3 separate regions of the Homo sapiens genome follow, and all the other regions are linked to region 3. The links come from fine-mapping of genetic effects on gene expression. A gene starts in region 3. Each other region holds a variant in brackets. All regions are shown on one strand. Distances are between the middles of the regions.

Region 1 (11,359 bases), 100 kb after region 3:
ATCCCTAGCTGCAAGGGCCCCCAGCAATGTGACCGTCTTAGTGGGGCACATGGCCACCTCAGTAGAGTCAGGCAGCTGACAGATACCAGGTAGGCAGAGAGCATTGTCTCCAAAGCTAGGTAGGGTTTGGATGCATGGAAAAGATTTGGGAAAATGGCATTCAGATTGGGAGAATAGCATAAGCAGAGGCACAGAGGTGGGAGAGTTCAGGGTACAAGGGAGGGCCAAGACTGTCACAAATAACTTTAATCCTCTTCACACTGGTGTAAGCAAAAAGGAGAATGTTTCAGTGGGGCTCGCTTCAGGTGCAGCTGGATCCAGGGCTTCTAAAACCCATCAGGACTCTGCTTCATCCTCTCAGCTCTCTTTGCTCTTTCTGTTAGGGACAGGATGGTCCCCAGCAGCTCCTGATAGACTTCCCTCTAGCTTCACATCCCTCAAGAAGAGAGCACCTCTTTCCCACGGCTCTAACAGGAATCCAGGGCTGTTCTCATTGCTGCCTTAGGTCCGTTTCTATCCCTGGACTGGCTGGCCATAGCATGTTATAAGGGTGGAATAGGTGGATTGGCCAGGCCTGCCTCAAATCCCCACCATGGGGCCACATGTGGACTGAGAGTTGGGAGGAAATTGGGCCCCAGAGGAAAACAAGGGAGGTGTTTCCTGAAGGACACAGCCTGGATGCTGGACTGATGAAGCTGCAGATCCTCGCAGCCCCAGAAGCCCTTTGTTTGGCCTAATTATCAGGTGTGTGGTTGTCTGTGCAGCAATCAGGGCAAGAAGGTGGGCTGTGGCCACATGGTAGGGAACCTTGCGTGCCAGGTACATCAGTTAAGGTACAGGTTTGGCTGCTCCAGCAGGGAGACACAAGTAACAGTGGCTTCAACAGCATGAAAGCTGTTGTCTCTGACACAACACTGCTTAGATGGGAGCACTCGCCCTTGCTCCATGAGGTCACCCAGGAACCCCTGTTACTCTGACCATCCTCCAGATGTTGCTTTCCTCCCCCCAGCACCAGTCAGCTCACTCCCACCTCCCCATTGCAGCTGGCAGAGGAAGCTGCAGGGCCTGGGGAAGCTGGCCCCTGCCCTTTGAGGAAACACCTAGAAGATGCAATGCACATCCCTCCCTCCCACCCACAGCTTGTGAGTCAGAACGGGTTCACGCGGTTCCTCTTAGCTGCAGGGGAACCTGGGACTCCATGTGCACATCTGGAACTACAGGCAGTAGAAGCAGGGGAAAGTGGACATTGGAGGGGAGTCTGTAATCAGCCACACCAGGCCAATGAGTTTCCTTCCCAAAGAACGATCCAAAGGATACTAGAAGAAAGAGAGGCCCCAGTCCAGAGTGTCTGCAGTCCAGAAAGTTTGGGAAATGTCCCATGCTGTGTTTCATTTTAGGATATCTGCAGTGTGAGTATGTAGGCCAGGGTTTCCCAAACAAGTCTAATCACAAAGCCCCCCCCTTTCTTTTATTTAAAGACAGGGTGTCACATTGTCACCCAGGCTGCAGTGCAGTAGTGTGATCTTGGCTCACTGCAGCCTCGAACTCCTGGGCTCAAGCAATCCCCCCACCTCAGCCTCCCGAGTAGCTGGGACAACAGGCACACACCACCACACCTGGCTAATTTTTTTTTTTTTTTAAATGGAGTTTCGCTCTTGTTGCCCAGGCTGGAGTGCAATGGCATGATCTCGGCTCACTGCAACCTCTGCCTCCCGGGTTCAAGCGATTCTCCTGCCTCAGCCTCCTGAGTAGCTGGGACTACAGGCATGCGCCACCACACCTGACTAATTTTGTGTTTTTAGTAGAGATGGGGTTTCTCCATCTTGGTCAGGCTGGTCTCGAACTCCTGACCTCAGGTGATCCGCCCACCTCGGCCATCCAAAGTGCTGGGATTACAGGTGTGAGGCACCATGCCCCGCCACCTGGTTAATTTTTTAAATTTTTTTGTAGAGATGGGGGTCTCACTATGTTGCCTAGGCTGGGCTCCAACTCCTGGCCTCAAGTGATCCTCCTGCCTCGGCCTTCCAAAATCCTGAGATTACAGGTGTGAGCTACCACGCCTTGACCACAAGTCCTTTTTGAGAAGTTTAGCACCTACTAGAAGTCTACTGATAAAGAATTTCCAACCGACTGGGCATAGTGGCTCATGCCTGTAATCTCAGCACTTGGGGAGGACGAGGTGGGTGAATCACTTGAGGCCAGGAGTTGAAGACAAGCCTGGCCAACGTGGCAAAACCCCGTCTCTACTAAAAATACAGAAATTTGCCGCGTGGTGGCAGGTGCCTGTTGTCCCAGCTACTCAGGAGGCTGAGGCAGGAGAATTACTTGAACCTAGGAGGTAGAGGTTGCAGGGATCCAAGATCGCACCATTGCACTCCAGCCTGGGCAACAGAGTGAGATCCTGACTCAAAAAAAAAAAAAAAGAACAGAATTGCCAACCAAAAAGTTATTTTTAAAAATTCTCCTGCACGTTCTTTGGACAGCAAGAAACAGTAGACTCTTGAGCGAGGCGGCATGGCCCATCCAGTGCTGGCCCGGATGAGGAGGAGGCCTGTGGCCCATGCTCATCATGACACCACTGCTGTTGCATGCAGGCACACCACCCCATGGTATCTATGCCCATAGATCCTGGCTGAACCTCTCCAGTGCCAGTCCCTGCCCCGCAGAGGAATGAAGACCTCATTCCACCTTATCTGAAATGGCCTGCATTTTTGTACAGAAATCTGTGCAGATCAGAACAGAAGCTGGCCCACGGCTCCACATCGAACCTCCTGTGGACTATTCTGATGATTTTGAGCTGTGTGGGGATGTGACTCTCCAGGCAAACAACACTTCTGAGGATCGTCCGCAGGTAGGGATGGCCTTGGCCTTGTGCTCGGGACACCTGAAGGACGGCGAGGCTCGGTGCTGCAGTGGCCCCTCGGGGCACTTTCTGACAGTTATTTATTCTGTCCTTCACTCGCCGCTGTGTTCCTTCACTCTTGCGTTCATTTCACACAGTTTGATGAGCAGACCTTGGGCTAGAGGTCAGCATTCAGAGGCACCCGGTGACCAGGGGTCGGTGAGGCTGGGGTCTGACTTCTAAGGGTCACTAGCACATAGTCCCTGTACAGGGAGAGAATGCAGAGAGGTTGGGGCAGAGCATGGCGCAGACAGAGGAGGGAGAGGATCCCGGAAGGCTTCCTAGAGGGAGTGACTTTTGTCCTGGGTCCTAAAAGCTGGGTAAGAGTTTGAGGGGCAAGTTGGTGAGGGCAGGCAGCAATTGCTGATGCTCAGCCTGTCCACACGTGTATACATGCACCTGATAAATATTTCGAATACCACCCGCAGGGCGGCAGGAGCCACATGTTTAAAAGCCTAGAGGCCTATGCAGCTTTGGCTTGGAGTCCATGTCGGTTTAGCAGCTTACAGGGTTGACAACAGGACATTTTACTCCCCATCCTCAGATTGCCATTTCATTCCTGAAGTCCTTTGAACTGCAAAAGTATATCCCAGTCCTTCCTTCCACAAGCATTTGTTAAGCACCTCTCACTGACCATCAGGCTCTGTCCCAGGCACCAGAGATTCAGAAATGAACAAAACTGAAGAGGTGCCTATACTTTTTTATTTTTGTATTATTTTTTAAAGACGGAATTGTGCTCTGTTACCCAGGCTGGAGTGCATTGGTACAATCATAGCTCACTGCAGCCTTGAACTCCTGGGCTCAAGCCATCCTCTCACCCCAGCTTCCTGAGTAGCTGGGATTACAGGCATGGGTCACACCCAGTGAGGTGCCTGTTCTTAAGCAACCTGTGCTCCAAAGGGGAGACAGACAATGAAGAAAAAAGGAAGAAATAAACGATGAGATCATTTCAGGTATCAGTAAGTTCTCTGAAGAAAACAGAAGAGAAAGATGGGATAGCAAGATGGTGTGGGAGAGAAGGCAGTGTTAGCCAGGATAGAGAGAGAAGGAAGGCCTCTTTCCAGCATGACATTTCAGTTGAAACCTGATGGATTAGGAGTGACCTGGGGCCAGGCGCTGTGGCTCACGCCTGTAATCCTAGCACTTTGGGAGGCCAAGGTGGGCAGATCACCTGAGATCAGGAGTTCAAGACCAGCCTGGCCATGTTGAAACCCCATCTTTACTTGTAATACAAAAATTAGCTGGGCGTGGTGGTGTGCGCCTATAATCCCAGCTGCTTGGGAGGCTGAGACAGGAGAACCTCTTGAACCCGGGAGGCAGAGGTTGCAGTGAGCCAAGACTGCACCACTGCATTCCAGCCTGGGCGACAGAGTGAAACTGTGTCTAAAAAAAAAAAGGAGTGGCTTGGCAAGGAGCAATGAGAAAGGCATTCCAGATAGAGGAAGCAGCAAGCGTGCAACGGCATGAGGCCAGGCTTGTTCAAGGAGCAGGATGCAGGCACAGTGTGAACAAGGGGGATAAAGAATGAAGGAAGATTAGGTGCACTGGGGCAGAACAGGCCTGGGCCAGGGTGGAGGTAGGAGTGGATGGTTGGGGTTTACTCCAAGGGCATTATTTTTATAAATAGAATGAGTACATCATCTCCATAGTTATGTAGAAGCAAAATTATCCAGAGGTGGTAGGTCAAAGTCAAGTTGCTAAGCCAGACCCTGCCCCGCTTGCCAGAGTGGCATTTGTTCAACTCTGGGCCCCGGCTGCATATTCAGTGACGTCACCGCAAAGGCAGAGTCTTGCTTCTACGTATCGCTTTTATGAAGTGAGAAGGACTCTTACTGGAGATGGGAATGCTGTCCAGGAAATGTTCCTCCGATTTTGCTTTCATGCTTGTACTTCCTTATTTGCTGATAAAGGAAAGACAGATAAAGAGCAAGGATCACTTTGTTTCACATCTTGGTTGTAAAATACCCGAGTATGTTGGAAATTTTTGTTTCCCTAAAACAGAATATAAAAGTCGTTTTCTATGGAATGATCCAATGACTTTGTTTCTCTGCCCAGTCCATTAAAGTGGGGTTAAACAGTAGGCAAAATTGTGGACTTTATTACCTTTAAAACTCAAATCCCAAACAACACAGACAATTTGCTTTTGAACTAAACAGCCCCCTGCTCAGGATCAGTCTGTGCAAAACAGCCATCAATTTCTCTTAATTGGGAGGCTGGTTTTTAGCCAAGCATAATATGTTACAGTCCCAGCCCCAGATATGTATGTGCCCTTCAAGCAAGAGGCCATGGTAGTTTGCCTTTGGTCAAGCATTGGGCACCTCTCGTTAAATTAACATATAGCCCTTCCTTTGTGAGCTCTCAAGCTCCCTACAACACGGGACAGCAGCATTAAGTCCCATTAGCATCCTTTTGTGCACATACTCCGCATAGGCATGGCTGCTGCTCCGCCAGCACTTAATTTTCTCCACTCTGAGTGCTTGATTATATTTCTCTCTTTTCTTTTTTTTCCCCATCTTGAGGGGGCACTCCATAAGGCTTCACAGTCAATTTCCTCTTGGAGTTATTTTCCTGCAAAGTGTAAGAGTAAAATGGCAATGCCAGTTTTCAGCAAAGGCAGAAGTCTTAAGAGATGCAATCTGAACAGGGAAAAAAAAAAAAGGCACGTGGCTAAATATACTCAGCCACCTCACACTGTTTGCAAGCGCAACCTGAAATGGAGCAAGAGGAAATGCATGTCCGCATATGTACTTTTCATCTGACCTTCACTGTTGAAACACACCAGCCTCTCGCCTTTAATCACATCTTCCGTGAAGTTCAATTTCATAGCTTCTCTGAGTTCACAGACTGGCTTGCTGCAGACATGTTCTGTTG[C/T]CCTCCACCCCGTTGACTTGTACATTGCTTTTAAAAGATGTGAATTACTAGCTGACATTTTTATTTATTTATTTATTTTGAGACGTTGTCTCACTCTTGTCACCCAGGCCAGAGTGCAGTGGTGCGATCTCGGCTCACTGCAACCTCTGCCTCCAGGGTTCAAGCGATTCTCCAGCCTCTGCCTCCCGAGTAGTTGAGATTACAGGCGCCAACCAGTACGCCCCACTAATTTTTGTATTTTTAGTAGAGATGGGGTTTCACCATGTTGGCCAGACTGGTCTCGAACTCCTGACCTCAGGTGATTTGCCCGCCTCACCCTCCCAAAGTGCTGGGATTACAGGCGTGAGCCACCATGCCCAGGCAAGGGTTCCACATTCTTATACACTAACAGTGACCAGAGCTGAGGAACAGCTGTCCCCTTACTTAGGTGTGTGTGCTCCAGTGTACCACCATCCTGGGTACCATTCCGGACACTGAGGATAAGGCAGAAGAGAAACAAGTATATAATGTGTCAGGAGACAACAGGGCTGATAAGAAAAATAAAATAGGAAGGGGATAGAGAAAAATGGCCAGGGGCTGCTATTTTATATGGAGGGTGCAGGGGCTTCCCCTTGATGAGGTGATACTTAAGTAGAGGAGAGGTCAGAGAAGCAGCCATGGGTCAGATTGCATGGGGCTTGAGGGCAGAAATAAAGATACGGGATTCTCCTTAAGTTTGAGGGGAAACCATCATACCTGTTTTACATCTCTGGTGAAAGGAAGACACCGCTTTCCAGAGAGTTCTGCCAAAGTGGCAAGTCTTAGTTATGTTGGCTTTCCTGGGCACATGGTTGTATGCTGCAATGGATGATATGTTCACCGTTTAAGTGGTATTGTCTCTTGCTGGGCGCTGTGGCTCACATCTGTAATACCAGCACTTTGGGAGGTGAAGGGTCGCTTAAGATCAGGGGTTCGAGACCAGCCTGACCAACATGGTGAAACCCCATCTCTACTAAAAATATAAAAATTAGCCAGGTGTAGTGGCACACACCTGTAATCCCAGCTACTCAGGAGGCCGAGGCAGGAGAATCACTTGAACCTAGGAGGCAGAAGTTACAGGAGCCGAGATGGAGCCACTGTACTGCAGGGGCAGAGTGAAACTCCATCTCAAAAAAAAAAAAAAAAATTATATTGTCTCTGTTGATGTATCAGGAATGAAACAAAGTTTACGTTTTAAAAAATTATGATACTTATTTTCCTGATAATGCATAATTGATATAAAAAATTCAAATGACAAGGCTACCATAAGCGATGATTATGCCACTGCACTCCAGCCTGGGTGACAGAGCAAGACCCTGTCTCTAAAAGAAAAAAAACAAAAAATCAAATGATACAAAGAAAACAAAAGTCCTTTCATAATCCCACTGCCCCAGAGATAATTATTGTGAGTAGATGGGTAGATAACCATCCGGACTAAAAATGGCATATTTCATTATATCCAAGAAGAGATCATTGATCCAGAATATCCTGGACCTGTCTCGTTCCCAGTGAGTGGTATCTCCCAAGTTTAGTTACCTCTGAAGTCCCTGAGAGCGTGATACGTGACAGGAAGACAGGGCCACCCTGAAGTCTTCTGGAATGCCTTCTGAGTGTTCTTTCCATTGGGTGGATGGTGGCATGGGGTGAGTCTGGTTTTTTCTCACAGTAACAGTTCAGTGTCTTAAAGTGGTTATTGCTGACATTTATAAACGACTAAAGACCACCATCCTTGGCCAGCCCACCCCAACCCTGCCCCCAGCCAGACTCTGCAGCACATCCCTTCAGTCTTCCTTCATTCGTTCCAGTGATGAGACTTAGGGCAGTTTCAATGCGTGGGGTTTACCACAGCAGGAACTTAGGGCAGTTCCTGCTGTTTGGGGTTACCATATAAATGACCTCTGAGTGGGTGCCTTTTTAACATTTTTAATGGTTATTTTCACATAAATGGGATTATACCATCCATGCTATTTGATTTTCCCACTTTTTTTTTTTTTTCTTTTTGAGACAAAGTCTCGCTCTGCCACCCAGGCTGGAGTGCAGTAGCACAATCACAGCTCATTGCAACCTCTACCTCCCAGGATAAAGCAGTCATCCTGCGTCAGCCTCCCGAAGAGCTGAGACAACAGGAACTCACCACCACATCCAGCTAATTGTTGGGGAGTTTTTTGGTAGAGATAGGGTCTCATATCCCACTATGTTGCCCTGGCTGGTCTTGAACTCCTGGGCTCAAGCAATCCTCCTGCCTCAGCCTCCCAAATTTCCAGATATTACAAGGCTAAGCCACCATGGCCAGCCCCATTTACTTATTTATTTATTTAAAGACGGAGTCTTGCTCTGTCACCCTGGCTGGAGTGCAGTGGTGAGATCTTGGCTCACTGCAACCTCTGCCTCCTGGGTTCAAGCAGTTCTTCTGCCTCAGCCTGTCATGTAGCTGGGACTACAGGCACGTGCCAACACACCTGGCTAATTTTTGAATTTTTAGTAGAGATGGGATTTCACCATGTTGGCCAGGCTAGTCTCGAACTCCTGACCTCAGGTGATCTGCCCGCCTCAGCCTCCCAAAGTGCTAGGATTACAGATGTGAGCCACTGTGCCTGGCCTCCCATTTTTTAAAAAAACTCAACAACATACCTTGGCCATCTTTCTACACTGGTACTCACTCAACTGCCATACAGCTCCATGGTTCAGAGCACTGTTTTAGGAGTTGGTGGCCTGAGTTTGGATCCTGGTCCATTGACTGGCTGTGTGCCAGCAATGGTGTTGATGTAGCAGGGATGAGAGTGATCAGATCCACTTTAGGAGCAAGAGCAGAGGGTGATTTAATGAGGAGAAGATGGGAGGCAGGGAGACCAACAGAAGAGCGAGGCCCCAGCATGTCTTCAGGGACAGGAAGTTGTTTTTACCATGCCCAGTTTTCTGTGCTTGTCCCTAGGATACCAAATCTCCCACCAGTACCAAGCCCTGTGGTTTTAACTTCTCCCTTCTGAATGCATGTGGACATTCTGACCCTTCAAGCAGCGTGGACAAAGAAAGGATCCTCTTAACTATTCAGGATGTGATGGTAAGATCAGTTTTCAGCATCCTAACCCCTAAGGGCTGGGGATCTTTTCCGTAGCCAAGCAGCTGTGCCTGCCTTAAGATGGACTCCGTGAGAGAGTCTAGGAAAACCACAGGGCGGGCACGGTGGCTTATACCTGTAATCCCAGCACTTTGGGAGGCTGAGGCAGGAGGATGGCTTGAGCTCAGGAGTTAGAGACCAGCCTGGGAAACAGCAAGACCTTGTCTCAACTAAAAATTTTTAAAATGTGCAGGGTGTGGTGGCATGTGCCTGCAGTCCCAGGTACTTGAGAAACTGAGGCCGGAGGATCACTTGAGTCCAGGAATTCAAGGTTGCAGTGAGCTATGATTGTGCTACTGCATGTCTGCCTGGATGACAAAGAGAGAAGCTGTCTCAAAACAAATATACAAACAAAAACCGCTGGGCTGCTACCCCCTAGAATGGATATATATATATATATATATATATATATATATATATATATATATATATATATTTTGTTTGTTTGTTTGTTTAAAGAGATGGAGTCTTGCTCTGTCTCCCAGGCTAGAATACAGTGGTGCAATCATGGCTCACTGCGGCTTTGAACTCCTGGGCTCTAGTGATCCTCCCACCTCAGCCTCCCAAGTAGCTGGGGTTACAGGTACGCACCACCATGTCCAGCCAATTATTTATTTATTTATTTATTTATTTATTTTTGAGAGACAAGGTCTTGCTTTATTGCCCAGGCTGGTCTCAAACTCCTGGCTCAAGTGATCCTCCTGCCTCAACCTCCCAAAGTGCTGGGATTACAGGCATGAGCCGCTGCGCCTGGCCAGAAGATGTAAAACAATTCACAAGAGATTTGACTTAATGATGTTACATTTAAATAATAAGAGCTCACGTTAAATGAGCACTTACCGAGTGCCAAGCACCATGTTGAGCATGTAACATCCATCACGACGTTAACCCTGTGAGTTAAGTTCTAGGGATTTTCATTCCCATGTTATGGTTTGAGGAAACTGAGGAATAAAGAAATAATGTTGCTCACCCAGGCCTCAGGGAAGCCCCTGCTGGAAGCCCAGGCTCATGACTCCTTGTTCCTTACAATTCACAGTCACAGGCGGGGAATATTGCACTCATCTGGTTTTGCTCAGAATGTGCCACAGTCTGTTGTGAATATTATTGATGTTATACCCAGGAGCAAGGTATTCAGAGGTGACCATCCATCAGTTATGCTTAATAATGTTTTAAACAATGATAGAGAGAACTCTCCTTAGCCAAATATCTCCTCAGTGAATCCATGACTGAAAATGTGGATGAAAAATGTTTTTCAAAAGCGAAATCCAGTGAGGAAACAGCCAGACAAACCCAAATTGAGGGGGATACTCTAAAAACAACTGGCCTGGAGTCTTCAGAAATGTCAGTGGCAGCCAGGTGCGGTAGCTGATACCTATCATCCCAGCCCTTTGGGAGGCCGAGGTGGTAGGAATGCTTGAAGCCAGGAGTTCCAGACCAGCCTGGGCAACATAGGGAGACTCCATCTCTACAAAAAATTAGTTGGGTGTGGTGGTGCATGCCTGTAGTCCCAGCTACTTGGGAGGCTGAGGTGGGAGGATCACTTGAGCCCAGGAGGTTGAGGCTGCAGTGAGCTGTGATCATGGCACTACACTCCAGCCTAGGCAACAGAGTGAGACTCTGTCTCAGAAAAAAAAAAAAAAAAAAAAAGGAAGAAAAAAAAGTCAGTAGCATGAGAGACAAAGGGCACTGTTTCAGATTAAAGGAGAGTAAAGAAATAACACAATAGCAAAGACTTGGAACCAACCCAAATGTCCAACAACGATAGACTGGATTAAGAAAATGTGGCACATATACACCATGGAATACTATGCAGCCATAAAAAATGATGAGTTCATGTCCTTTGTAGGGACATGGATGAAATTGGAAATCATCATTCTCAGTAAACTATCGCAAGAACAAAAAACCAAACACCGCATATTCTCACTCATAGGTGGGAATTGAACAATGAGATCACATGGACACAGGAAGGGGAATATCACACTCTGGGGACTGTGGTGGGGAGGGGAGGGGGGAGGGATAGCATTGGGAGATATACCTAATGCTAGATGACGAGCTAGTGGGTGCAGCGCACCAGCATGGCACATGTATACATATGTAACTAACCTGCACAATGTGCACATGTACCCTAAAACTTAAAGTATAAAAAAAAAAAAATCCTAAAAAAAAACACAATAAAGGCAGTGTGATGAGATCCTAGGGGTGTGAGGGAGAGGAATTGCTACATAAAAGGAGAATTTTGGAAAATGAATGAAATTTGAGATGAACTATATTATATTAGATAATATTGTATTGATGTTAAATTTTCTGAGTTTGATAGTTACATTGTGGCCATGTAAGAGAATGTCCTTGTTCTCTGGAGACACATGCTGAAGTGTGCAGGCATGAGGGGCTGTGCATAAATGGGTCAGGATCAAGAATATGTGTGTACATATTGAGAAGGAAAAAGTGGG
Region 2 (11,359 bases), 200 kb after region 3:
ACTTTAAAGAACACTGCTATAGGCTGTGAAAAAACATGAAGGATTTCACACAGGGGAATGACTGGACAGATTTGCTCTGGTAGGAAATGAACTCTGGTGGCAATGTGAAGTCCAAGTTAAAGTAGCAAGAGACAGGAAGCAGGGAGACCCATTAGTAGGCTATTACGAATGTCCCGACAGGAGGTAATGATGACGAAGGCAGCGATTGAGGCCGTCTCTTTGTGAAAGTCCTTTGATTTATAGAGTATGTAGCGGTTCCCACAGAAATGAGACCAAGCCTAGTTTCACACCCCCAGCACTGTGGTTTTCAAAAGCTTGCATTTCTAGCATTTCACATTTTCTTTTCTTTTTTTGGTATCTTCGACTTCCAAAATTTCATACATCAGTCTGATGCTATGCATCTTCACTTTGTTAAATCTTATGGTTTCAGGATCTTGACATTGGTGCCAAGAACGTGAAGCTTTACGTCAACAGAAACCTCATCTTCAATGGCAAGTTAGACAAAGGAGATAGGGAGGCCCCAGCTGACCACAGCATCCTGGTTGACCAGAAGAACGAGAAGAGCGAGCAACTAGAGGAGGCCATGAACGCTCACTCGGAAGAAAGCAAAGGCACCCATGAGATGGCTGGTGCCAGCGGGGACAAGGAGCTTGGTCTCGGTTGCTCACCGCCAGCTGAAACATTAGCGGATGCAAAGCTTTCTTCACAAGGAAATGTGTCTGGCAAAAGAAAGAATTCTACTAATTGCAGGAAAGACAGTTTGTCCCAGTTAGAGGAATATTTGAGACTGTCGGCAGTCCCCACTTCGATGGGTGACATGCCCAGTGCTCCTGCCACTTCCCCACCTGTGAAGTGCCCTCCTGTCCATGAGGAGCCCTCTCTCATCCAACAACTGGAAAACCTCATGGGCAGAAAAATCTGTGAGCCACCCGGGAAAACCCCATCCTGGTTACAACCTTCTCCCACCGGCAAGGACAGGAAGCAGGGAGGCAGGAAGCCAAAACCCCTCTGGCTTAGTCCCGAGAAGCCCCTGGCCTGGAAGGGCAGGCTCCCATCAGACGATGTCATCGGTGAGGGTCCTGGAGAGACCGAGGCCAGGGATAAAGGCCTACGGCATGAGCCAGGGTGGGGGACCAGCCGGAGTGTCAACACCAAGGAGAGACCCCAGAGGGCAACCACCAAAGTCCACAGTGATGACTCAGACATCTTTAACCAGCCCCCCAACAGAGAGCGCCCTGCTAGTGGGAGGAGGGGCTCAAGGAAGGATGCTGGCAGCAGTAGTCATGGGGACGACCAGCCAGCCAGCAGAGGTAAGCTCCAAAGAGCAGCCCGACTTGGGCATCATCATCCCAGCCCCTCTAATTGGCATGAAGCCAGTTAGCTCCTGGACCTCAGTTTCCTTATCTGCACAACAAGATGGTTGTTCTCAACTAAGGGTCACAAAATCACTGTCTCAGGGGCCAAAGAGATGCATACATGAGTGAAATGGGCAAGACACATTTTGCATGGTAAATTCATAGATGTATTTGTCATTGCCACCAAGGTATGTCCCTTTGCCCATTTTTCTTGCAACACATGGCTTTTCCAAGCCATTTTCCAAAAGACTTTGTTCTCCTGCCTTTCATAGAGACATCGGTCTCTAGTCACTTCACTTTATCCTTAACTGTACTGTTAGAAAAATAGCTGGGTACAGTGGCCAGGCCTGTAATCCCAGCACTTTGGGAGGCTTAGGTAGGAGGATCGCTTGAGCCAAGGAGGTCGAGGCTACGGTGAGCCATGATTGCGCCACTGCACTCCAGCCTGGGTGACACAGCGAGACTCTGTCTCAAAGAAAAAAAAGAAAAAATAATAACACAAGTGTGATGATGCATAGCAATTGACACTTGCCTGAGTGTTGGAAGTGGCACAGGGAATAGTGAGGACTTTGGCAATTTGGAGACCATAAGCCCACCCACAGGGCGGCTGCCACTCCACTCAGGTTTCTAATAAGCATTTAGGAGTGCAAGGCCAGGCCGGGCGCAATGGCTCACACCTGTAATCCCAGCACTTTGGGAGGCCGAGGCGGGCAGATAACCTGAGGCCAGGAGTTCGAGACCAGCCTGGCCAACATGGTAAAACCCTGACTCTACTAAAAATACAAAAATTAGCCAGGCATGTGGTGCGTTCCTGTAATCCCAGCTACTTGGGAGGCTGAGGCAGGAGGATCACTTGAACCTAGGAGGTGGAGGCTACAGTGATCCGAAATTGTGCCACTGCACTCCAGCCTGGGCAAGAGAGTGAGACTCCGTCTCAAAAAAAAATAATGAATGCAAGGCCACTGTACCAGACCTCCTCTTTACTTTTTTCAAGAGAAACCAGAAATGTTTCTTATTTTTTGACTTTGGCAACTGATTGAGATTATTTTTAAACTACTGTATATGTCAAAAAAAAAAAAAAAAGGCACATCTGCTGGCAGGACTCACCCTGAGAGCTTTGTGAACTTTGCAGTAGATGATTAGATGGTCTTCAAGGGCATTCCTGATTATGAAAGGAGAGCCCATCAAGGCAGGGAGTCTCAATATTTGCACTCAGACTTGGCTCCTGGAGAGTACGGATAGCAGCTAGGAGTCAAACCATTGAATCCAAACTCAGCCGCTTACAGACCTGGGACCTCTAGCCAGGCACACAACTCTCTGGGCCTCAGTGTTTTCATCTGTAAAATGGTTATGACTTCCCCACCCAGTGTGGCAAGGAAAGAATGAGATGATGGCTTCCAAATAGCAACACTGAGCCTGTGACATGATGAGTGCTCGGTGAGTAGTAGTCGTTATTTCACCACTAGCTTGGACGAGGTCCTTTTCCATCCACAGAACACTCAGGCCTGCCATGCCAGGGCTCACCCCTAGAGCCTCTGGATTTAACCCCACCCCATACCACGTGGGAGCACAAACCCTGGAGCCAGGCTGCCTGGGCACGTATCCTGGCTCCATCACCTCCAACCCACACCTCAGGCAGGTTCTGAAACCCTGCTGAGCCTGTTTCCTCCTCTGTAAAATGACACTAATAATACATGGGGTGCTGGGAGAATAAATGAGATCATACTTGTGGGGCATTTAACACAGTGCCTGGCACACAGGAGCCCCCAAGAGATATTAGCTGTTCTGTCATCATCATCACCCTCTCTGTGATGCTGCCTCTTGGTGAAATATCTATGCAAAGCCAAGGCATGCATTTTTTTTTCTAGTTTTCTTTTCTTTTTTTCTTTAACTTTTATTTTGGGTTCTGGGGTACACGTGCAGGATGTGCAGGTTTGTTACATAGGTAAATGTGTGCCATGGTGATTTGCTGCACCTATCAACCCGTCACCTAGGTATTAAGGCCAGCATGCATTAGCTATTTTTCCTAATGCTCTCCCTCCTCCCACTACACCCCCCAACAGGCCACAGTGTGTGATGTTCCCTTCCCTGTATTCATGTGTTCTCGTAGTTCAGCTCCCACTTATAAGTAAGAACATGTGGTGTTTGGTTTTCTGTTTCTGCATTAGTTTACTGAGGATAACGGCTTCTGCCTACCTCCATGTCCCTGCAAAGGACATGATATTGTTCCTTTTTATGGCTGTATAGTATTCCATGGTGTATATGTACCACATTTTCTTTATCCAGTCTATCATTGATGGGTATTTGGGTTAATTACATGTCTTAATGCATGCATTTTTTTAATGATTCAAATCGGCATCTTCTGTATTAGGGAGTGTCTAGCAGATATACCCCTGACATGTCACTTAGGGTACAGGAACAAGTTCCTCAGACTCCAAGTGTTATCCTGGACAGAGCTGCCTCCTCTGATTCCCCAGCCTTACAAATTTTTGCTGCTCACCCCTTCTGAGACTTAACACTGAGGCTCAGTCAGTGTCAGGAGGAGGGTAAGGTGGAAAGAAAGAGTTGAGGAGCTCTCTGAGGGCAGGCGCCTGGCTCATGGCAGGTCCTCCACAGTGTGGGAGGGCCATTGTAAAAAAGAACTGCAGTGACCAGGTGCACAGCATGCTTGTGGTAAGCCAGGCTCTGGTCCAGGCACGTTACCCAAATAACCTCCCAACAGACTCATTTTACAGATAAAGGGAACATGAGATTGAAGTAATATTTTTCAGGTCACATAGACAGTAAGGGTTAAAGCAGGACTGGAACCCGCACAGATCAGCTCTACCATACATGTTTCCAAACATTACCCTATAGTAGTCACGGCCTATGGTCACAGCCATCATCACCCACCTGCCCCGGGAAAGCCAGGCCTTCCAAGCTTTCCCAGCAAACAGTCGGTGCAAAGCCTCCAGGAGTTCCAAGGCAATGGTGTTACTCCAACTTGCCCAAATTCAAGAGATTTTGTTTCACTTTAATTTCTTTCCAAGCATTTCAGTGCTTGGCTCAATGCACATTAAGAACCAAGCCCCTGAGATTTCATGCTTGTTAAGTCAGTCGTGCTAAAAAGGAAAGTTGCTTAGAAATTTTAAATTATCCATTACCCAGAGCCAAATACCGTAGCCATGCCCTTCCGGAAAGGTACAGGCCAGCCTACCAAGAATGCTGGTAGAATGAATGACTGCCCAAGTTCTATTCTGGGATTGGAATTTCGTTGCCAGTATAAGAGAGAGCCTGGGTAGTGGGTGCACTGTCTCACACCTGTAAACCCAGCACTTTGGGAGGCCAAGGTGGGAAGATTTCTTGAGGCCAGGAGTTCAAGACCAGCGTGGGCAATATAGTAAGACTCCATCTCTACAAAAGTTTTAAAAAAAATAGCTGGGTGTGGTTGTGTGTGTCTGTAGTCCCAGCTATTCGGGAGGCTGAGGCAGGAGGATCACTTGAACCCAGGCACTGAAATGCCTGAAAAGAAATTAAAGTGAATCAAAATCTGCAGTTCAAGTCTGGAGTTCAAGGCTGCAGTCAGCCATGATCACACCACGGCACTCCAGCCTGGGTGACAGAGCGAGACCCTGTCTCTAAAAAAATGAAAATTGGGCTGGGCACAGTGGCTGTTGCCTGTAATCCCAGCACTTTGGGAGGCTGAGACGGGAAGATCACCTGAGGTCAAGAATTCGAGACCAGCCTGATTAATGTGGCAAAACACCGTCTCTACTAAAAATACAAAAATTAGCCAGGTATGTTTGTGCGCACCTGTAATCCCAGCTACTCGGGAGGCTGAGGCATGAGAATCGCTTGAGCTCGGGAGGCTGAGGCATGAGAATCGCTTGAGCTCGGGAGGTGGAGGTTGGAGTAAGCCAAGATCACGCCACTGCACTCCAGCCTGGGTGACAGAATGAGACTCTGTCTCAGAAAATAAAATCATAAAATAAATAATAAAAGAAAATAAATTTAATTAATTAAAATCAAAGTAATATAGGGAATTTATGAAAATCAAGACAGAGCAGGATCCGATCTCTTTAAAAAAAGAGAGCAAGAGAGAAAGAGCAAGCCTGAGAAATCTTATGCTCAGCAGAGCATCTCGTTGAATGCCATCTGCATTTTGGAAGTATTTTCATCAGGGGTCAGTTGTTTACAGGTGGAGGAGATCTCATCAGTCCAGTTTGAGCAGTAAAGAGGATGTTATTTGGAGAATCCTTAATGATCACCTTGACCCCAAAGGTAGAGAGTGTAGCCACTCATCACAGGGGACCGGAAGGAAGAACCAGAAAGTTGGCAGGAACCAAGGACGCTTCTTTCTATTTCTTCTGGGCCCTACCTCTTCTTCTCTGTGGGTCCACTTCCCCTCACTTTCCTCACGATATCAGCTTTCTCTGCTACTCACACGGCCTCACAGCCATATGAGCAGAAATGTGAGGAAATGGCCTCACAGCCCTGGAGTGACTATGCCCAGCTCTTGTTCCTGCAACCAATTCCAAAGTCTCAGGGGAGAAGCCAATTGGTCTACTTGGGTCAGGTGTCCACTCCTTGTCCAATCAGTTATGGCCAAAGGGTGATTCACTGGAATAAACATGGCTCTGTGATATCCCTCTAAGTACTTCATCGTTTCCTGTTTTAGTAGCAATTACCACATACCTCATGGCAGTGCAGTTGATTTTGACAAACTTCAGAGCTCCATAGTCCTATTCATCTCAATCTAGGAGTATGTCAGGAATTTTGATAGCACCATCTCATCACTGGGGGCCCTCCCAGATTGTGTTGACTGCAGGTTGAAGGAGTGGCTTTCTGATGTCTGTGCAGATTGTAGAAATGTTGGTGACAACAGGACAGAGCACTAATCCCAGCAGCTCCCCAATTCCCCAATTCCCATGGAGTCTGCAGACAGAGAGGTCCGTGGGCCCCCAGCCAGCTCTCATGTCAAAGAGGTCTAAGAGCAAGGCTCAACTCCTCTGCTTTTTTTTTTTTTTTTTTTTTTTTTGAGATGGAGTCTTGCTATGTCACCCAGGCTGGAGTGCAGTGGCACAATTTCAGTTCACTGCAACCTCCACCTCCTGGGTTCAAGTGATCCACCCACCTCAGCCTCCAAAAGTGCTGGGATTATAGGCGTGAGCCACCGTGCCCGGCCATCTACTCCTCTGCTTTTAAACCCAGAGTGTACAACTCAGGGAGAATAGGTTAGAAAGCAGACGCAGAATGAAAGCAAAGTCCCTGCCTGCCTCGCACACTCAGGCAGCATCCCTGACACGTGACATTCGGTGCTGT[C/T]TCCTTGGTGCGCTTGCAGACCAACCCAGGCCATTCATTTTAGTCAGTGGAAATCAAATCACATAAACTGAAGTCACGAGAATCCATCTGGGTAGTTCCTTCTGCCACATGTTAAGCCTCGTGCCTGAGGGGAGAGGATGGAAGAAACCTCTGGTATCTTTTTAAATGGCAGATGAGAAGTGGGGGAGGGCAGAGGACAGGGGCAGAGGAACTGACAGGTGGAGGGGGGAGTCCCTCGGCCTCTAGGCCTGATCCTGAGGGCTGCACAATTGTGGTGCCAGTGTCCATCCCTTCACTGGCATTTCCACACACCAGGAGCTGTGCTGCGCACTGGGACACCTCCAGGAGCGAGGATAAAGTGGCAGAGAAGGCCTCTCCAAGGAGGCGGGTGACAAGCAAAGCCAGCTAGGTGGGCCTCCAGAGGAAGAGCACTCCTGGCAGGGGTGCAGCAAGGGCAAAGGCTCTGAGGCCAGAAGAGACAGCCTGTCCAGGGAGCAGGAGGGCCAGCGGGGCTGGAGCTGAAAGATCATGGTGGGGAGCGCAGAGGGGAGGGGACAGGAGTCAGTGGCGGCCGTACTCAGGGCTGTGGGCATGGTAAGAGTCAGGTTGTCTTGATTCTCAGTGCAGGAGAGACAATGCCAGCTAGAGGGGTTGATGACAAATTCCATTTTAGGCACATAGAGACTGAAGTGACAGAGTGGACATGTCTGGACCTTCCAAGAGGTCATTGGAATTGAAGGATGGTGCCTAGGGAAGAGACGGCAGAACTTGACCTGTAAAGTTAAGCAGGGCCTGCCTGGGAACCAGGAGCTAAATGAGGGCAAGGAAGGATGGCAGTGTCAGGAGAGGAGCGGCCTGGGCCTTGGGACACCCCCAGACTGAGGGTAGGACTGGGGTGATGGAGAGAGTTGTCAGTGGGAGAGGCAGAGAACCAGGGAGGTATAGTGGCTCCTAAGCCAGTGGAGCAGGAGGTATCAAATGGAAGAGGTTTGCCAGGGATGTCACACATAGACTGAAGACTGACAAAGACTGGGAGGTCATTGTTCACTTGGAGAAGGCATTTCAGTGGCGGGTTAGGGAATTGTAGGAGTCTTACGGATGCAAAGGCCAGAAAGCCACCAGGAGTTTGACTTTAGGCACAGCTGGATCCAGGAGTTCAGAGGTTGTCATCAGGATCCTCCATCTCTCGACTCGTGTTCTCGGTGTTGGCTTCATTCTCAGGCAGGTTCTCTCTATAGGGTAGCAAGATAGTCTTTGGCAATTCCACATGTACATCCTTCCAGCTTCAGCACCACCAGTTTAAAGAGTGCCCCTCCTTGAGGCCAGCTTGGAAGGATACTGTCGGCATTGATCCAATTAGATGGCCGGAAGGTGGGGGGTGGGGTGTCCCCAAAGGATCCCCCAAATCTGAGTGGAAGGGGAAGTGGAGTTTGAGTGAGCAAAACAATCCCACTGGAAAGAGGCACCGGGTGGCAGGGGCTTGGGAGAGGCTGGGAGGGGTGGGAGGGGTGGCAGAGCACCTGAGCGAAACAGGGAGAAAATAGGGCTGTGGTTGGAGGGAGCCACAGGAGCGGGTCGCCTTCCTGTTTCTTCCTTTCTTCTCTTCCAGGTAGGAGAGATTTATGCATGTCTGCAGGCAAAGAGGGGAAAGTGCCAGTGGGGAAGGAGTGATTGGAGATTCTGGAGAGAGGAGATAATTGATGGAGCCGAGCCCCCTAGGAGACAGGCAGGAAATGGAGTACAGGGCACAGTGCGATATGAAAGGAGGAAAAACAGAATGTCAGTGTCAGCAGCCGCTGTTTTTGCAGGATGACACCCTTAGATGGCAGTGAGCCATGGCGTGGCTGTGAGAACAGGCCACTGCGTGGTGTGCACGCCGTGGCTCTCATGTTCCATAAGGAGCGTGGGGCCTTCAGATCAGTCTGGGACCGTGTTCTCCACGCACCTGGGACACAGGCTTTAGCCATGTGTGCAAGTAAATTCCTTACCTTATAATATACCTGGCTTAATGGCTTTTTAAAATAGCATTTTTGGCTGGGCGCGGTGGCTTACGCCTGTAATCCCAGCACTGGGATTCGCCCAGCTGAGGCAGGCGAATCGCTTGAGCCCAGAGTTCAAGACCAGCCTGGGCAACATGGCAAAACCCCATCTCTACCAAAAAAATAAAAATAAAAATTAGCCGAACATGTTGGTGCACACCTGTGGACCCAGCAACTCGGGAGGCTGAGGTGGGAGGATCACCTGAGCCTGGGAGGTTAAGGCCATGGTGAGCCATGATCACGCCACTGCACTCCAGCCTGGGTGACAGAGTGAGACCCTGTCTCAATAAATAAACAAATAGCATTTTTTTCTTGATGATAAAAGTATTACAGGCTGGGCCCAGTGGTCATGTGTATAATCCCATGTACTCGGGGGGCTGAAGCGGGAGGATCGCTTGAGGCCAGGAGGTCAAGGTTGCAGTGAGCTTTGATCACACCACTGCACTCCAGCCTGGGCAACAGAGCGAGACCCTGTCTCTAAAAAAAATTAAAAAGAAAGAAAATAAAAGTAATGCATGAAGGGAATTTAAAAAAATCAAGCTACAAAGAAGAAAATAAAAGTCCTTCCTGCTCCCCACCCAGAAACCAGGAACAACACTGTTAACACGGGTGCATGTCACCCGTACCAGGATATGCTGCATTTAAAGCTGCGTATCTGGCTTTTTCCTTTTAACGTTCTTTTACAAACCTTCCACCTGCCATTAAATTGTCTTTGAAAACACCGTTAGAGTCACGTGACTGTGACAGTCTCCAGCACACACCCTCTTGTGGCTGACTCAGACGCCTCAGGCAGCAGCATTGCCCCTGGTCATGTGAGTTTCTACAGTGGGGAGCGACTCCTGGCAAAGTTTCTAACACAGCCAAGTAGTCTTCCCTTGGTTCACACGATGATTGCATTCTTAGAAAATTCAGTCTATGAAAAAATGCTTTGTGTTTTTGCAAAAACAACCAGATTCTGGAATTGGGTGATCATAGACAATTATTTTACCGACCTGAATGGCCCACAGGACAGTCAGAAGCTGTGTGGGACAGGAGACCAAGCTCTGTGCCAGGGCCCCCATGCAGTGCAGGATGGTAACATGCCTGGCCCCAGCCATCCAGTGCCAAGAGGCCTCTTGGCTAAGGAGACAGCCGGGAACAACCCCGCTGGTTTCTAGAGGGCTCCCCTGGAGGTGGCCCTGCCTCACTGAGAGCCACCACAGGAGACAGTCTCTAATGGTCCCCACTTCCACACATGCCACTCACAGGGCTTCCCCCCTCTTGTGTCCTTTCTTCCAGAAGACACCTGGTCTTCCAGGACGCCGTCACGGTCAAGGTGGCGCAGTGAGCAGGAGCACACACTTCACGAGTCATGGAGCTCCCTCAGTGCCTTCGACCGCTCCCACCGGGGACGCATCTCCAACACGGAGCTCCCGGGGGACATCCTGGATGAGCTCCTGCAGCAAAAGAGCAGCCGGCACAGCGACTTGCCCCCCTCCAAGAAGGGGGAGCAGCCAGGGCTGTCGAGAGGGCAGGATGGCTACTCTGGAGAGACAGACGCTGGGGGTGACTTTAAAATCCCCGTCTTGCCTTATGGACAGCGCTTGGTCATTGACATCAAGTCTACCTGGGGGGACAGACACTATGTCGGCCTCAACGGAATAGAAATATTCAGTTCCAAGGGTGAACCGGTGCAGATTTCAAACATAAAAGCAGACCCTCCCGATATCAATATTTTACCAGCCTATGGGAAAGACCCCCGCGTGGTCACCAACCTCATCGACGGGGTGAACAGGACCCAGGATGACATGCATGTCTGGCTGGCCCCCTTCACGCGGGGCAGATCCCACTCCATCACCATTGACTTCACGCACCCTTGCCACGTTGCCCTGATCAGAATTTGGAACTACAATAAATCTCGGATACATTCCTTCCGAGGCGTGAAGGACATCACAATGCTGTTAGACACCCAGTGCATCTTTGAAGGAGAAATCGCCAAGGCCTCTGGAACCCTGGCGGGAGGTATGGCGTGTCTGTAAGAATTTTCTCAGAGCCCCTATCTGTGACTTGCTGAGAGTCTATGGGAAAAAACAGACCAGCTGGCTAGCCAACAACAGATCAGTCCTTTCTCTTTCTTTTTTTTTTTTTTTTTTGAGACGGAGTCTTGCTCTGTCCCCCAGGCTGGAGTGCAGTGGCGCGATCTTGGCTCACTGCAAGATCCGCCTCCCGGGTTCACGCCATTCTCCTGCCTCAGCCTCACGAGTAGCTGGGACTACAGGCACCCGCCAACACGCCCGGCTAATTTTTTGTATTTTTTTTTTTTTTTTTTAGTAGAGACAGGGTTTCACCATGTTAGCCAGGATGGTCTCGATCTCCTGACCTCATGATCTGCCCGTCTCGGCCTCCCAAAGTGTTGGAATTACAGGCGTGAGCCACCGCGCCCAGCCCTTTTTTTTTTTTTTTTTTTTTTTGGGTGGGGAGACAGGATCTTGCCCTGCACAGTGGCATGGTTTCGGCTCACTGCAGCTTCGACCTCCTGGGCTCAAGCAATCCTCCCACATCAGCCTCCTAAGTAGCTGGGACTACAGGTGCACCAACCCACCTGGCTAATTTTTGTATTTTTTGTAGAGACGAGGTTTCACCATGTTACCCAGGCTGGTCTCGAACTCCTGGGCTCAAGTGATC
Region 3 (8,062 bases):
ATCCTTATTCTCTAAGATCATATGAATGGGGTAGACATCCTCCAAAGCCACCGGGTCCCTCCTAGACTCCAAAATTCCAGTTTCCAAATCAATTTCTTCATACCTAAGGAGAAAAACACAAATATCAAAGCCCAACTCAGCTTCAGATATAATGTGTGCTTGGCTGTGTTCTTTTGACAACCTCCAGCAGAGATCAGAGAGAAGTGAGATCAGTCAGTTTTCCTGCCTTATAAATGCAGATAATCTTGACAAGCAGGTTCCTGCCTTTCTATCCCACAGAACGCAGACCTTTCCAGGACTCCCCAGACTATTCCAGAAGCTGGGTGCTGGGACCTAAACCTCCTTATTGGCCAAGTCATGGGCTTTTGTTTCCCTCCAAATCTGGTACTCAGTCTCCAAACCACCAAGTTGGACGAAATGATTCAAGGCTTTCCTCCGCTTTTTTGAGATGGAGTTTTGCTCTTGTTGCCCAGGCTAGAGTCCAATGGCATGATCTTGGCTCACTGCAACCTCCACTTCCCAGGTTCAAGCAATTCTCCTGCCTGAGCCTCCCAAGGAGCTGGGATTATAGGGGTGTGCCACCACGCCCGGCTAATTTTGTATTTTTAGTAGAGATGACGGTTCACCATGTTGGTCAGGGTGGTCTCGAACTCCTGACCTCGGTGATCCACCCGCCTCAGCTTCCCAAAGTGCTGAGATTACAGGTGGGAGCCACCACAAGTGGCCAAAGCTTTCCTCCCTTTAAGATCTCATCTTTCCATCTCTCCTTAGTTATCTCTCTAATATCCTAACCCATTTTCATGGTTTGCATTACCGCCTGCATGTTAACAAGTCTCACCTTTGAATCCTCAGTCCTTTTTCTCCAAATACAGATCCAATGTCTTCACTTGTCTATTAAATGCCTCCCATTCCAAATATGATTACCTCTCCCCAGCTCCAATTAAGTCCCTTCTTTCCCCTCTTACTACCGCTTTCTTCCATGTGCCTCTTACAACACCATGGAGACATTTTTCATTTGTGCTTCTTTCATGCAGTTAGCCAAGCTTGTCAAGTTTTTTTTTTTTTGAAAAAAAAAAAAAATACATACATATATATATATATAATTTTTTTTCCCCTCACTATGTTGCCCAGATTGGTCTTGAACTACCGGGCTCAAGTAATCTGCCCACTTCAGCCTTGCAAAGTGCTAGGATTACAGGTGTGAGCCACCTTGCCTGGCTGCTTGTCGAGTTTTATTTTGAAATCTCACTCATATCCTACACTAGTCTAATTGCGGCTAAATCCTATGTACATGTTTCAGCCCTTTCCTTCCTTGCCCCCTCTGTGTTATCTGCACCATTTAACCCTCCATTCCTTTTTTTTAAGACTTGAGTTTTGATCTTGTCACCCAGGCTGGAGTGCAGTGGCGCAATCTCGGCTCACTGCAACCTCTACCTTCTGGGTTCAAGCGATTCTCCTGCCTCAGCCTCCCTAGTAGCTGGGATCACAGGCACCTGCCACCACACCCAGCTAATTTTTGTATTTTTAGTAGAGAGAGGGTTTCACGATGTTGGCCAAATGATCCACCTGCCTCGGCCTCCCAAAGTGCTGGGATTACAGGCATGATTCACCACACCCAGCCCAACCCTCCGTTCTTAAATGATCCTGTCTCCTCCCAAACTTCCAGAACACCACTCTGACCTGACTGTCCTCTACCTCTCCAGCCACACCGCCTCAGTCTTCTTTTGAAAGTCCCTCACCCTCCATCCAGCCTTGAAATGTAGGTGCACTGCAGAGCTATATCTCAAGACCTCCAACCACACTACACTCTCTCTTAGGGCTGATCTTAGCCAGCTGCTTTAATTACCAGCTGCTAGGAATGACTCACAGATGTCTAGCTCAGTCCCTCCCTCTGGCCTGCTTTCACTCCCACGAAGCCAGATGTTTACTAATTAAGACTCTTCACTTGGACAACTCAAAAGAACCTGAAGCTAAATGTGTCACATGTCTCTTCAGCAAAGTCCCCACCTCCCCCAGACTCAACCCCCACGCTGTTCTTCCGTGTTCCCAGCCTCAGAGATGAGAATCAGGGTTCGCTCAGGTGCCCAAACAGCAGCCTACTATGTCTTGACTGCCTGTGCTCTTCATCCCCACGCCCACCATGGTAAGCCAGACCATGACTAGATTACTAAAAATCTCTCAACTTCACTCTTTGCCCCTAGTCTGACCCTCTCTTCAGTGACTTCTCACTGTCCTTTTGATAAAGGATAAGCTTTTTTTTTGAGATGGATTCTCCCTCTGTCACCCAGGCTGGAGTGCAGTGGCACAATCTCGGCTCACTGCAGCCTCCACCTAGCTGGGATTTCAGGCGTCTACCACCACGCCCAGCTAATTTTTGTATTTTTAGTAGACATGGGGTTTCACCATGTTGGCTGGACTGGTCTTGAACTCCTGACCTCAAGTTATCCGCCCACCTCTGCCTCTCAAAGTGCTGGGATTACAGGCTGATAAACTCTTTAAGTAGGTTAAAAGACTTGATTCCAGTCCAATTTGGCTGGAATCTGAACTCAGACCTTCCTCAAAGTCTGGGTTCTTCCCTTGCTAGTTGACTTTTAGCATGCCACTTGACCCCTCAGGGCCTCGATTTTCTCTTCAGGAAAATGGGGAGAATATTACCCATCTCCTAAGGTTTCTGTAAAAATTAAATAACATGTTGTATTAAGGATCTTAGCACAGTCCTAGCTATTCCTCATTCCCTACCTCCAATTCCACACTTCAGCCACTTACTTCACATTTGCTGTTCTCTGTCCAACAGTCCTCTTTGCCAACTGGCTGCCTAAATCCAACCTTTAAGTTTTGTCTCGAACATTATTTTATTTTATTTTTGAGACAGAGTCTCACTCTGTCACCCAGGCTGGAGTGCAATGGCTGAATCTCAGCTCACTGAAACCTCTGTCTCCCAGGTTCAAGTGATTCTCCTGCCTCAGCCTCCTGAGTAGCTGGGATACAGGCATGCGCCACCACGCCAGGCTAATTTTTGTATTTTTAGTAGAGATAGGGTTTCACCACGTTGGTCAGGCGGGTCTTGAACTGCCGACCTTGTGACCCATCCACCTCAGCCTCCCAAAGTACTGGGATTGCAGGCATGAGCTGCTGCACCCGGCCTGTCTTGGACATTATTACCTCTTGGAACCTCCCCTGACCCTCACAATATGGCTTAAGAGCACAGACGCTGAAAATAGCCTGGGTTCAAATCAATTCTTAGTCACTTATTGCCCCCAGAACCTTAGGTTACATAATCCCTCTCTGTGACTCAGTGTCTTCCTCTGTAAAATGAGGACGATAACAGCACCTACCTCATAGGTGAGGATCAAGTGAATTTAATCTCCTGTTTAACGGAGTTTAATCAAGTGAGGATCAAGTGAGTTTAAGCTCCTAAAGCTTCTAGAATAGATTCTTAGAACAGCAATGTGGCCGGGCGCCGTGGCTCACGCCTGTAATCACAGCACTTTGGGAGGCCGAGAGGTGCGGATTGTCTGAGGTCAGGAGTTCGCGACCAGCCTGGCCAACATGATGACACCCCATACCTACTAAAAATGCAAAAATTAGCCGGGCGTGGTGGAACATGCCTGTAATCCCAGTTACTCAGGAGGCTGAGGCACGAGAATCGCTTGAACCTGGGAGGCGGACGGAGGTTGCAGTGAGCCAAGATCGCGCCACTGCACTCCAGCCTGGGCCACAGAGAGAGACTCTATCTCAAAAAAGAAAAAAAAGAACAGCACCTCACCCATGAAGTCCCTGATAAATGTCAGCTTTTAGCATTATCGCTAATTGTCCTGATACGCAGATCTCGAGTTGCCCTAGGCTATCTGCACCGAATGAATATACCATGAGGGTCTGTTGATCTCAGGAGTCTCCAGTCTGGCTCTAAAGTGTCTTTCCTGCTCTAATCCTATCCTCCAATGTAAAGGAAACATTCTTTTAAGCCTGAAGAATATCCCCAATCCTGTTCGCCATTACCCCAAAACACACACAGGGACAAAACGGGACATCACTAGATTCTCCCCCTCCCCCCGCCAACTCCATCGGACTCCAGGGCCCTGCCAGGCCTGAGGGACCCCAGATTAGCCTTACCGCCGTGCCCCAACTCAATCAACAGGCCTCCGGTACTTGCACAGCCCCACTCCATTCCCCCGCCCTGCCCCCAGCTCCATCAGCCCCCGGGCCCTGCGCCCGCCCGCCCGCCCGCCAGGCCAGGCCGCCCGCTGACCGGTCCTGGAGCTGTAGGTCGGGTCGCTCCCGAGGCTCCTCATAGAAGCTGATGCCCGGGTGCGTGGCGAGGGCCCGCCAGAGAAACTCCTGCGTGCAGGGTTCCAAAGGCAGCGGGAAGGGCGGCACTCGCGTCTCCAGCCGGCTCCACAGCGCTGGCAGACACAGGCCATCGAGCCCCTCCAGAGCGACTTCGTCCAACAACGACTCCAGCGCGTCCATTGCTACTTCAGTCGGCGGCGCCCGGGGCGCATGCGCAACGCACCGCCAAGGGCCTTGGTCCATCGCGCCTGCGCACAACGATCCGGGGCCCGGGGAGGTGGGTCAGACCCAGGGTTCGGAGGAGGAGTTCCAGCGCGCCGGCATGACGTCACTCCCCGGGGGCGGGCTCAGTAAGTGGAGCTCCACCGTCATTGGTCCGGGGCCCCGCAGTAACCAGGGGAACTGCAAACAGTGTAGAGGCCGCTTCCGGTTCGAGCTCCCGGAACCGCCGCCTCTAGGGATGGACGGTGAGTGTCTGTGGGCCCCTCCGGGAGGTCGGGCTGTTATTCTCCCATCCCTCCCGACCGCGCTTTGGGCAGAATCCTAGGCCATGAACCCCTGGACCACCACTTCCTGACCCAAGGGGGTCTCCGAAATGAGGGATAGGGAGGCTTAGTGGTCTGGAACGCGGAGGAGAGCCTGGGGGAGTGGTCAGTGCTGTGACCATTCTGCTCGGCTGTGGTCGTGAAGGAAACCGGTACTGGCCGGGAGCTCAGTGAAGGGATGTAGGGTGGGGAAGGAGAAGTAGAGGTCTGAGGAGGGTCTTGTGAATGTTGGGATGTGGAACTGTCGGATTTGGGAGTTGATATGAAAACAAGCTTGATCGTGGGAGTGCAATCGTCAGGTGCTGGGAAAGGGAATTGGTGTGGGGGGTGAAGGGAGTTTAGGAAATACTCCCTTTCTGTGCCTTGGCGTTAATAATAATAGCTCCCTTTAACAAAGTGCTTTCCAGTACCAAGAACTCTGTAAGTACTCTTGGGCAACACCTCGCTAAGCTTCATACCAGCCTTTTGAGTTCAGCGTTGTTCCATTTTACAGATGATGAAACTGAGGCTCAGAGGTGTTAAGGAACTTGCCCAAAGTCAAACAACCAGCATGTAGCAGAGTGAGTGAGAAACCCAGACACCCTGTCTCTGGAGCTGAATTATGGAGCTTGAGATTTGGACCGGTTTTGAGGGTCCCTTTATTCCAGAGGTTGTAAATGCAGATGTCTGCAGAGGAGAGTCTAGTGAGCCGGATTGAGGCTGTAACTGAAAATCAATTCCTCACCTGAAAGGAAAGCTGCTCACCAAGCACCAGCTGATTGTCCTCTTGGGGTACTTCTCAAAAACAGGGTTGGCCAGTCACTCTGAAGGCCAGAGACAGCTTGTGGGCCCCCATTTAGGGATCCCTGATTAGAGTCATGGTATTGACAATTGGAAGCAAATGGAAAATAGGCTATTCTGATATCTCACTTTGCAGATGGGAAGACTAAAGTCTAGAGAGACTGGTAGGGTCTGGGCTAGAGTCCAGATCATTTTTCTAATTACAGCACTGTCCCTCACTTCTCGGGAATTTGTTCCTGGGGAATCCACATTCTTTTTATATTCACTGAATGTAGTGTGGAGAAAATGTTTTTAATTGAACATTCTGTCATATGCTTAAAATATATCTTTTCCCTTTGTACTTTAGAGGTACTATAAAATGTGCTTTACCATTTTGCCTTCTGGAAAGGTCAATGTAATGTTGCTATAGAACATCAGTCCTCAAACCTTTTAAGCCTTGGGACCCCTGTATGCTCTTACCTCAAAGAGCTTTGTTTATTTATATTTATGATATTTACCATATCGAAGATTTAAACTGGGAAAATCTTAAGATGTCCATTAATTAGTTCCTTTAAAAATAATAAAAATTGGGCCGGGCATGGACTCGTGCCTGTAATCCTAGCACTCTGGAAGGCCAAGGCAGGTGGATCACTTGAGGTCAGGAGTTCGAGACCAGCCTGGCCAACATGGTGAAACCTTGTCTCTACTAAAACTTAGCCGGACGTGGTGACACATGTCTGTAATCCCAGCTACTTGGAAGGCTGAGGCAGGAGAATCATTTGAAGCCGAGATCTTGCCACTGCACTCCAGCCTGGGCAACAGGGCGAGACTCTGTCTCAAAAAAACCCAATAATAATAATAATAATTGGCCAGGTGCAGTGGCTCATAATAATCATAATAATAATTGGCCATGTGCAGTGCCTCACACCTGTGATCCCAGCAGTTTGGGAGGCTGAAGTGGGTGGATTGCTTGAGCTCAGGAGTTCAAGACCAGCCTGGGCAACATAGCTAGACCCTGTCTCAAAAAAACTCCAACAACAATAAACCCATTACTTCTGAACATAAATAATATTTTTAATGGAAAACAATTACATTTGCCTCCAAAAAATTAATAGGAAGAGTAGCATTATTTTATGTTTTTTCAAGTTTATTCAATAGAAATAGAAAAAACTACTCTCATTTCTGCTTCAGGATTCAAACTGTTTTTTGTTATGCTGTTTTGGCTGGTGTGTATGAAGAAAATTTGGCCTCATACAAATATATAATTGGAGCAGAGAGAAACATTTTAATTGCCTTTTCAGATAACTGTAGACACTCTCCTTTCATACTATACAAAATTTAGCAAATGCCAGTTTCTTTTTTCTTTTTTTTTTTTTTTTTGAGAAAAAGTCTCACTGTCGCCCAGGCTGGAGTGCAGTGGCACGATCTCAGCTCACTGCAACCTCTGCCTGCTGGGTTCAAGCGATTCTCCTGCCTCAACCTCCCGAGTAGCTGGGATCACAGGTGTGAACCACCATGCCCAGCTAATTTTTTTTATTTTTAGTAGACATGGGGTTTCCCCATGTTGGCCAGCTGGTCGCAAACTCCTGACCTCAGGTGATCAGCCTGCCTCCATTTCCCAAAGTGCTGGGATTACAGACGTGAGCCACCATGCCTGGCCTGCAAGTGGCAGTTTTTTTTTTTTTTTTTTTTTTTTGAGACGGGAGTTTTGCCGTCGTTGCCCAGGCTGGAGTGCAATGGCCTGATCTCGGCTCACCGCAACCTCCGCCTCCCGGGTTCAAGCGATTCTCCTGCCTCAGCCTCCCAAGTAGCTGGGATTACAGGCATGTGCCACCACGCTCAGCTAATTTTGTACTTTTAGTAGAGATGGGGTTTCTCTATGTTGGTCAGGCTGGTCTCAAACTGCCAACCTCAGGTGATCCGCCCGCCTTGGCCTCCCAAAGTGCTGGGATTACAGGCATGAAGAACCATGCCAGGCCACAAGTGGCAGTTTCTTAAATGTTAGTCACAGTGTGTCATCTGAAGCCTTATAGGTGAACTTTTATACTGTGTTACATTAAAATCCATTGGTCTATCTTGCCCTTTCATTGGCTGCTTTACCCATATATGGTTTTATAACATCAGCCATTGGTCGTTTAGAAAATGTTGGTTCAGTGAGTTATGCAAATCTAAACGTTGACCTTTCAGATGCCATTATACGGTATTTAAAAAATCACATTTGTTAATATCACCACCTATTTCATTTTAAAAAGGAGTTTAAGTATTAGGAAACTATCAAACTCAAGGTAATGGAAACAAGTTTTCAACTTGTTTTCACTTGACAGCTTGAATTTTAACATTGGCAGCAAATATTGTCAGCTGTTTCCTTGAAGTGACAGACTCACTTATTTCATATTTGAGAAAATTTCTGCCAAATTCCCAAGACTGAATAACCAAAATTTGTCTATTATTTTATTTACTGCCATGTA

The links. PIP is the estimated chance that this variant, and not a neighbour inherited with it, causes the effect.
Region 1: its variant is the best candidate, but not a certain one, in a credible set for the expression of KATNIP in whole blood (INTERVAL, PIP 0.87).
Region 2: its variant is the best candidate, but not a certain one, in a credible set for the expression of KATNIP in whole blood (TOPMed, PIP 0.76).

What each region holds. Positions count from the first base shown.
Region 1 is chr16:27,645,885-27,657,243 of GRCh38, forward strand. KATNIP (katanin interacting protein) reads left to right here. Exons shown (of 28, transcript NM_015202.5): 6 at 2,720-2,851. Among named protein-coding and RNA genes, the nearest start is that of KATNIP, 100 kb to the left of the region's middle. The variant C/T (reference allele first, on the strand shown) is at 5,774.
Region 2 is chr16:27,739,611-27,750,969 of GRCh38, forward strand. It overlaps KATNIP (katanin interacting protein), which reads left to right. Exons shown (of 28, transcript NM_015202.5): 15 at 431-1,310; 16 at 9,974-10,696. It overlaps LOC105371157 (a long non-coding RNA gene), which reads right to left and starts at 8,280. Exons shown (of 3, transcript XR_950957.3): 1 at 8,177-8,280; 2 at 7,753-7,888; 3 at 6,706-6,780. The variant C/T (reference allele first, on the strand shown) is at 6,657.
Region 3 is chr16:27,545,421-27,553,482 of GRCh38, forward strand. KATNIP (katanin interacting protein) reads left to right here and starts at 4,724. Exons shown (of 28, transcript NM_015202.5): 1 at 4,724-4,757. The coding sequence starts at 4,751. GTF3C1 (general transcription factor IIIC subunit 1) reads right to left here and starts at 4,493. Exons shown (of 37, transcript NM_001520.4): 1 at 4,250-4,493; 2 at 1-103. The coding sequence starts at 4,470. RefSeq lists enhancers at 4,390-4,469, 4,480-4,589.